Homo sapiens: one gene and its partner. The protein of the gene in region 2 interacts with the protein of the main gene of each other region in a biochemical or structural test. Each region holds a gene or a part of one and is shown on either strand. Other genes may lie near its edges. The genes, in order: UBE3A and KRT6B.

Evidence for each region.
Region 1: the proteins of KRT6B (region 2) and UBE3A form a complex in vitro, tested with the Homo sapiens proteins (one large-scale study listed by BioGRID).

What each region holds. Positions count from the first base shown.
Region 1 is NC_000015.10:25,351,772-25,355,594, forward strand, and holds part of UBE3A (ubiquitin-protein ligase E3A), read right to left. Parts: intron 2,913-3,823; coding exon 2,757-2,912; intron 2,656-2,756; coding exon 2,582-2,655; intron 1-2,581. UniProt on the Homo sapiens protein: E3 ubiquitin-protein ligase which accepts ubiquitin from an E2 ubiquitin-conjugating enzyme in the form of a thioester and transfers it to its substrates.
Region 2 is NC_000012.12:52,449,330-52,453,732, reverse strand, and holds the start of KRT6B (keratin, type II cytoskeletal 6B), read left to right. Parts: upstream 1-1,586; 5' UTR 1,587-1,654; coding exon 1,655-2,194; intron 2,195-3,112; coding exon 3,113-3,327; intron 3,328-3,660; coding exon 3,661-3,721; intron 3,722-3,879; coding exon 3,880-3,975; intron 3,976-4,099; coding exon 4,100-4,264; intron 4,265-4,403.

The DNA of each region.
Region 1 (3,823 bases), on a different chromosome or scaffold from region 2:
TTCATTTCTTGTTGACTGCTTAGAGACATCTTTCCAAATGTCCTTCCTTGTCACTTTTTCAAAGTTAGGAGCAGGGATTGCACGTTTTTTTGATTGGTAATTTTTGTTTCAAAGGTTTGATTCAGATTCAGAGTTGATTTTGCTAGGTATGGTGGCTCACGCCTGTAATCCCAGCACTTTGGGAGGCCGAGGCGGGCGGATCACCAGAGGTCAGGAGTTTGAGACCAGCCTGGCCAACATGGCAAAACCCTTATCTCTACTAAAAATACAAACATTAGCCAGGTGTAGTGGTGTGCACCTGTAACCCCAGCTACTCAGGAGGCTGAGGCAGGAGAATCACTTGAACCCAGGAAGCGGAGGTTGCAGTGAACTGAGACTGCGCCACTGCACTCCAGCCTCAGTGACAGAGCAAGACTGTTTAAACAAACAAACAAAAAATTAACAAAATCTTATTTCTAGTGGTTTACATATTAATGATGCTGGCAACTTTTAGTTGAAATGTATTAAACAGCCTCGCAGTTTTTATTTTTATGAATTCTGCATACAATAAATAAATACCAACCAAAATATCTATACAGGCATACCCCAGAGATACTGCCGGTTCAGTTTCAGACCATGGCAAATAAAGTGATTATGGCAGTAAAGTGAGTCACACAAATTTTTTTGTTTCCCAGTGCTTATAAAAGTTACGTTTACATTATACTGTAGTCAAGTGTGTAACAGCATTGTCTAAAAATAAGTACATTATCTTAATTTAAAATCATTGCTAAAAATGCTAATGAAGTGAGCACATTTTGTTGGAAAAATGGTGCTGGTAGACCTGCTTGATGCAGGGTTGCCACCAAAAAAACTCAGTATCTGCAAAGTGCAATAAAGTGAGATACGCCTGTAATGTCTTTTTTCTCTTCTGTTATTACAAGCACTACTTTAAGTCTTCAACTACCGAATACTTGTAGACTATTTAATGAATTAATATTTTCATCATATTTATATTGAGAAAATTAAGAAGCTGAATTTAGTTAGAAAAGGTTTAGAATATCATCAACTCTTGAGGATGAGTTGGAAGCTACTTTATCTGTCATTTTTCACATAACACTAGTTTGCCCTTCAAATCATACATTTAAAAATGATCTTAAGATACATACCAAGTAGGGATTATGTTGTTATAAAAAGCTAGAAGTAAAATTAAGACTTTAATTTCAAAGATAATTTCTCTATAAAGAATAGCACAAGATATGTTCAACTATTCTCAGAGATGCATCAAGATATGACTTTTTTTCCTACTAGAAATTATATCTATGATCAATCATATTACAGAGATATTGCTGTTATACTCCTTGTGACTGATGAGGGGGGTTTTTCCTATCACCATGTTATCCCAACCCTTTAATGAATCACCTTTGAAACTCAGAACAGGTAGCAGCACAGAGGTTGCTAAGAGTAAATACATTCACCACTGCTGCCAGAAATGACCAACGGTGCACCAGAAAGAAGAAATACTGGTGAATTCCCACATACCACGACGAACAACCTTATAAAATAACAGAACAAATGAATATAAAGTAACATACAGCCATCCCTTGGTATATGTGACAGGGATTGGTTCCAGGACCACGTGTGTATACCAAAATCCATGCACGCTCAAGTTCTGCAGTTGGCCCTGTGAAACTGGCATGTATGAAAGTCAGCCCTCTGTATATGCAGGTTCTGAGTCCCACCAATACTGAATCTGCTCTTAGTTGAGAAAAAAAATCTGCATGTCAGAGGGCCCATGAAGTTCACAGCTGTGTTGTTCAAGGGTCAACTGTAATATAAAAATAACATTTATTGCTAGATAGAGTTGATATTCATTCTAGTGTTTATATACTTGAGTCTTAGAGCAATAGCCTTTGGAGACAACTTCCAGGAAGGTACGTGTTTGCATGCCTTCTCACTGCAATCCATCAGTAGCTGCCACTTGAACCAGTCTTAGCAGGGGATGGGGAAGCCTATGTCTTTCAGAATTGGATGATGTAGTACACAGAAGTAGACAGTAGAGTAGTAAGGGCATTTGCTTAAAAGCAGATAGAACTGGGAACCTCTACATCTTTCTGTGAGAATTCAGGGCTTAGTTTTTTAGGGTGTAAAATGGAAATACTAGTATGTATCTGGACATATTATCTTAAGAATTAAATAAAAGACTACCATTTCACTCAAAAAGTGCTTGATCCTGGGAAGCCATGTAACAGTTCACAAATGCAGAGTTCAAAAGAAAGGAAAAATTGCAGACATGGTAGCCTTATTTTAATTATCTTCTAACCAGCAGTAAGCATACTCTAACCAGTGAGGAATACTAGATAATCCATACGCCAAATGCAGGAGATTACATGAGACTTATATATAACAACACTTCATTCATGAAATAAATCACAAGATTAGCTCTGAAAAATGGTGATTATATTACAAATACAAATCTAAGTATATAGATGACAATTTGTGAGTTTGCTTATTTGGGAATTAGTACCTAGAGATAAAGGTCTGAAGCAAAATCACACACCCCTTTGGTGAATCAAATCTTCCTCTGAAGAACTAAGTACCTCACCTAATCAGAACAGAGTCCCTGGTATAGCCACCGTCATATTCTGTAGTTTCTTCTAGTGCTTGGAAATCTAGATTCTGCAAATTCAAGAAAATATGTCTTAGTTATCTGCTATACTACTGTATCATTACAAACAATAAATCGATACATGACTTTTTGCAGACACCTGCTTTCTTACCCGGCTTCCACATATAAGCAATTCAATTTCTTCTGGTCTGAATAAGTACTTTAAGGGAGATTCATTGGTCACCATATGAAAACCTCTCCGAAAAGCCTTGAACTGTTTTTCTACTGATTTATTGAGAATGTAGTCAGAATAAAGATTGACAAATTCCTGTAGAAAACATTAATCACAAGAACTTCTTATAATATGCTATGCAAACAAAACACAAGTTATTGGGCTGCATAGCTTTTTAATTTTTCCAAGAAAAAAACATTCAAGAATATTCTTAAAAATTCAATTTTACACCTACTTCTTAACAATTTCACAATTCTCTGTTATAGCCAATATTAAGCTATGAAAAGGCCATATACATAAAACTGTCAAGAATATTCTTAAAAATTCAATTTTACACCTACAAAGAAAACTACTTCTTACAATTTCACAATTCTCTGTTACAGCCAATATTAAGCTATGAAAAGGCCATATACACAAAACTGTCATACTTATAAATGTCAATTTCGATAATGTATTAAACAGAACTGAATATAAATGCTGGAGACGCAGAAAATTCTTTAGGTTCTCTCAACTAGGTATGTAAACAGACACATTTAAACCATGTATCCATCTATTTATAAATGCCAACCGTTTTAAGAGAGTACAATATATTTGATTTAAGCAAACCAGGAAGTCCCAAGTTTTCTACCATAGAATATTTGGTAAGCTGCCTACTGTATCCAGTTCAGCAAAAATGTGGAAGTACTGACTGACACATAAACTACTGTATCAAATCATAAAAGGAAAATGTGCTTTGTACCCTTAGTGTGTATAATATTTAATCAAAAAATTATATCAATATAAACATGTTTCTTAAAGGTATACTATATATTTGTCATAATTTTTTGCTTGTTATGTTCTGGGTTATTCCCATTCCCGATGAACACATTTTAGTCAATAGAAACCCAAATCTGACGTAAAGTATACTTTTCAGAAATGTATTTTTATCACAAACAGGATATACATGTGTAAATTAAATGTAATTTTTATTTGTTCTGTGATAAAGACCTTAATCATGAGGTTCCTGC
Region 2 (4,403 bases):
AAGCAAACAGCTATGAAAAAGAGACTAGAGACTGTTAAAAAGAGAATCAGAAAACATAGATGTGGGAGACAAAGCAGACACAACACAATCACAATTGAAAAAGACAATATTTTTATGTTTTGTACATATGAATACATGAAATATTTTATATACATAAAACACACTCAAACACATACACACAAAACATTCATGTATTTATTTATATACCTTTCTACAATGCAGGCTCCCTCTCTATATATGCCAACTCCCTCCACCTCTTCCTCACCCATACAAACACACGTTGACACAAACACATATGCACAGACATGTCACCCATGGCCCAGGAAAAGCACAGGAAAATATCCAAGTAAAGATACAAGGATACACAAGGAACTGCTAACATTACTTCCTCCATAGATAGGAATTGGGTAACTGGGGAATGGCCTTGAGCTATATTATTTTGTTGTTTAGCATGTTTTACAAAAAATTTTTTAAAACATGTATCATGTATTCAATTTGTAAACATGTAAATAATTGTGCAAATAGTACTATTCAAAATTTAAATGGGCAATCTACTACATTTACTTCTAGAATGTTTAAATATAGACAGAATCTTAATAAGCTTCTAATTTTAATATGAAATATGAAGGTTAGAGTCTCATATTAAAGGAAACAATAGGGGTATGCAATTAGAAAAATCCCAAGAATGAAAAAGTACAATGAACAGTTAACCTGTTTTATTTAACAAATAAAAGTAAGAAATGAAGGGAGATTTTTAAATTTCAATGATTTAAAGGATATATCACTCAAATACAACGTTTATAGAGCTTATTTTGACTCTGATTGGGACACCAAAATATAAGAAATATATATCAAAAATAGGACTGCTTGAAGACTAAATAGACACTTGTTCATTTTAATTAGTATGTAAATTTTTAAGATATAAAAATAGTGTTTTGATTTTTTAAAGGACCTATTATTTAGATATTAATATTGAATTATTGATTGAAGACATAATATGACTTCTGGAATTTCCTTTCAAACAATCTAGAATGGAAGAGGAAATAGGGTTGAAGTATGAAAGAAATCAGGCTGGCCATGAGATGATCATCATGGAAGCAGGTGACAGGTATATACAGGCCCATTGCAGTGTTCTGCTTCTCTACCTGTTTAAAATTGCACCTAAAAGGTGAAACAATTATGGGGAAATTGTAATATTTCTGTTAAGGAATTCACAATACAGTGCCTGTGATCTCCAACAGCAAGGCTGGAAGAAAGTCAGACTGGGAAGAGGAGGGCACTCAGGGCATGTCGATAAACAGCCTAGCATGCAGAACCTTTGCTGAAGACAGTGACTAATTCCAACTTCATGAATTGAGAATACTCTTATTGTGCTGAGATCTCAAGTCAAAGCTGGAGGCAGGAACATTTTGCCTGACTAAAGGAAGCGAAAAATGCAATCTCGGTATTTCATAACTTTTGTAATAATGCAGGTGTGATCTCACTATTTGTAAAGCCCAGCCCTTCCCAACCTGCAAGCTCACCTTCCAGGACTGGGCCCAGCCCATGCTCTCCATATATAAGCTGCTACTGGAGTCCGATTCCTCGTCCTGCTTCTCCTCCCTCTCGCCTCCAGCCTCTCACACTCTCCTAAGCCCTCTCATCTCCTGGAACCATGGCCAGCACATCCACCACCATCAGGAGCCACAGCAGCAGCCGCCGGGGTTTCAGTGCCAACTCAGCCAGGCTCCCTGGGGTCAGCCGCTCTGGCTTCAGCAGCATCTCCGTGTCCCGCTCCAGGGGCAGTGGTGGCCTGGGTGGCGCATGTGGAGGAGCTGGCTTTGGCAGCCGCAGTCTGTATGGCCTGGGGGGCTCCAAGAGGATCTCCATTGGAGGGGGCAGCTGTGCCATCAGTGGCGGCTATGGCAGCAGAGCCGGAGGCAGCTATGGCTTTGGTGGCGCCGGGAGTGGATTTGGTTTCGGTGGTGGAGCCGGCATTGGCTTTGGTCTGGGTGGTGGAGCCGGCCTTGCTGGTGGCTTTGGGGGCCCTGGCTTCCCTGTGTGCCCCCCTGGAGGCATCCAAGAGGTCACTGTCAACCAGAGTCTCCTGACTCCCCTCAACCTGCAAATTGACCCCGCCATCCAGCGGGTGCGGGCCGAGGAGCGTGAGCAGATCAAGACCCTCAACAACAAGTTTGCCTCCTTCATCGACAAGGTGAGCCAGTGCCATGCCCTCCATCGGGCACTTCAGGGTCCCCAGACCAGAAGAGCAACACCTTCCTGCCGGAGAGACCCTAGGAGGGAGGGAGAAGGGGACTCAGCCCAGCTCTGCAGAGAGTGCAGGTGGCTCTCGGTGCACAGGAGGCAGCACAGATGGGCATCACTCCCCCATGGGATATCTGGAGTGGCCCTCACTCCTGCCTAGGGAGAGCCATAACTTTTCATAACCCTGAAGCACAGATGAGGCCATCAGAGAGTGGAGTAGGTTAATTCTCCCCTCTGAAGTGTTTAAGAGATTACAAAGCAAATGCCAGGAGTATATGGGCTGGTAAATTACACTCTGGGGTCTGGGTAAGAGGAAAAAGATTTAGAAAGAAAAGGAAAAGATAATCTGGCTGGATTAAGAAAAAAAGGGACATAGAAACAACTGTAAAACATGGATAAATGCTAATTAATTTTAAAAACAGAGAATGACCATAACATCAGAATATTTGAGAGGAGACACTAAATGGGAAAGTAGACTGAAATGTAATCATGAGTCAACATCTAATATCCCTCCTAACTAAGATCCTCTCGGTAAAAAAAACTGTGTACAATATATCAGGTAATTAGTATTTTTAAACTAGATTTGTGATTGTGCTTGGAAAAAGAAAAGAAGAAATGTTGAAACTCACTGATGATCAATAGCTTACAGTGCGAGAACACCTCAGTGGTCCGTGGGACAATTTCTCTAGTGAGACTGGTGGGGTGCAAAGGAGAAGGAGTTGGGGGAGCAGAGCTCAGCCTGAGCCTCTCTACATGCACTGTAGTAGCCCAGCACCATGGGGACCTCCCAGACCTCCAGGAAACTGGATACCAGACACTTTCTCTGCCTTCCTTTTCCTGGAAAATGACCATTTTGCTTCCCCTCCAGGTGCGGTTCCTAGAGCAGCAGAACAAGGTTCTGGACACCAAGTGGACCCTGCTGCAGGAGCAGGGCACCAAGACTGTGAGGCAGAACCTGGAGCCGTTGTTCGAGCAGTACATCAACAACCTCAGGAGGCAGCTGGACAACATCGTGGGGGAACGGGGTCGTCTGGACTCGGAGCTGAGAAACATGCAGGACCTGGTGGAGGACCTCAAGAACAAGTGAGGACTCCATTTCCTGCAGCACACACTTCAAGACTATTGGGTGACCAGGGCCAGATGTGTGTAGGATTCCTAACAACCCATGTCCATGGAAATGAAAAGCACAAATTAGTCCCTAGGAGCAAACCTGCAAGAACCACAGATGGTTATGGGAGGATGGGGAGATTAAAGAAATGGCAAATTTAGTAGTAGCAAAATTCATCTCTTTGGCTCTCTGTGGCAGGAAAGCTCAATTAGAATATATTCCATTCAGGAAAATGTTGAATCCCAAGCTGCTTTTCTGTTTCATCCTACCCACTGGCTCAAATGTGTCCCATGCCTTTCTTCCTGTAGATATGAGGATGAAATCAACAAGCGCACAGCAGCAGAGAATGAATTTGTGACTCTGAAGAAGGTGAGCAGATGAAGCCAGGGGTTCAAATTCATTTAGAAGGAGAGAAGTGGCTCTGTGTCCTCGCTCCCCTGGGAGAGGAGAATTGGCAGGAGGACTAGAAGATGGGTAGATTGGAAAGGTGAGCTCAGGCAACTCCAGGTTGTTGGCTCTTTCCCCAGGATGTGGATGCTGCCTACATGAACAAGGTTGAACTGCAAGCCAAGGCAGACACTCTTACAGATGAGATCAACTTCCTGAGAGCCTTGTATGATGCAGTAAGCAACTCCACCATCCTTCTGTTTACTCTGATGGGGTCTGCAAAGGGGAGAAGATGTACAGGGCTGGGCATCTCTGTAAATGTCAGAAGTGAAGTTGATCTTATGACCTTCTGTTCTGCAGGAGCTGTCCCAGATGCAGACCCACATCTCAGACACATCCGTGGTGCTATCCATGGACAACAACCGCAACCTGGACCTGGACAGCATCATCGCTGAGGTCAAGGCCCAATATGAGGAGATTGCTCAGAGGAGCAGGGCTGAGGCTGAGTCCTGGTACCAGACAAAGGTGAGCACGGAGTGGACAGCCGCTGAGGAATCCTTGTGTCCATCCCTGAATACCAGAGGACTGCAGACTTCACTGGGGACATCCCCTGACAGGAAGCTGGGGTCCTCTCACAGGACATGCACTCTGCACTATTAGAGTA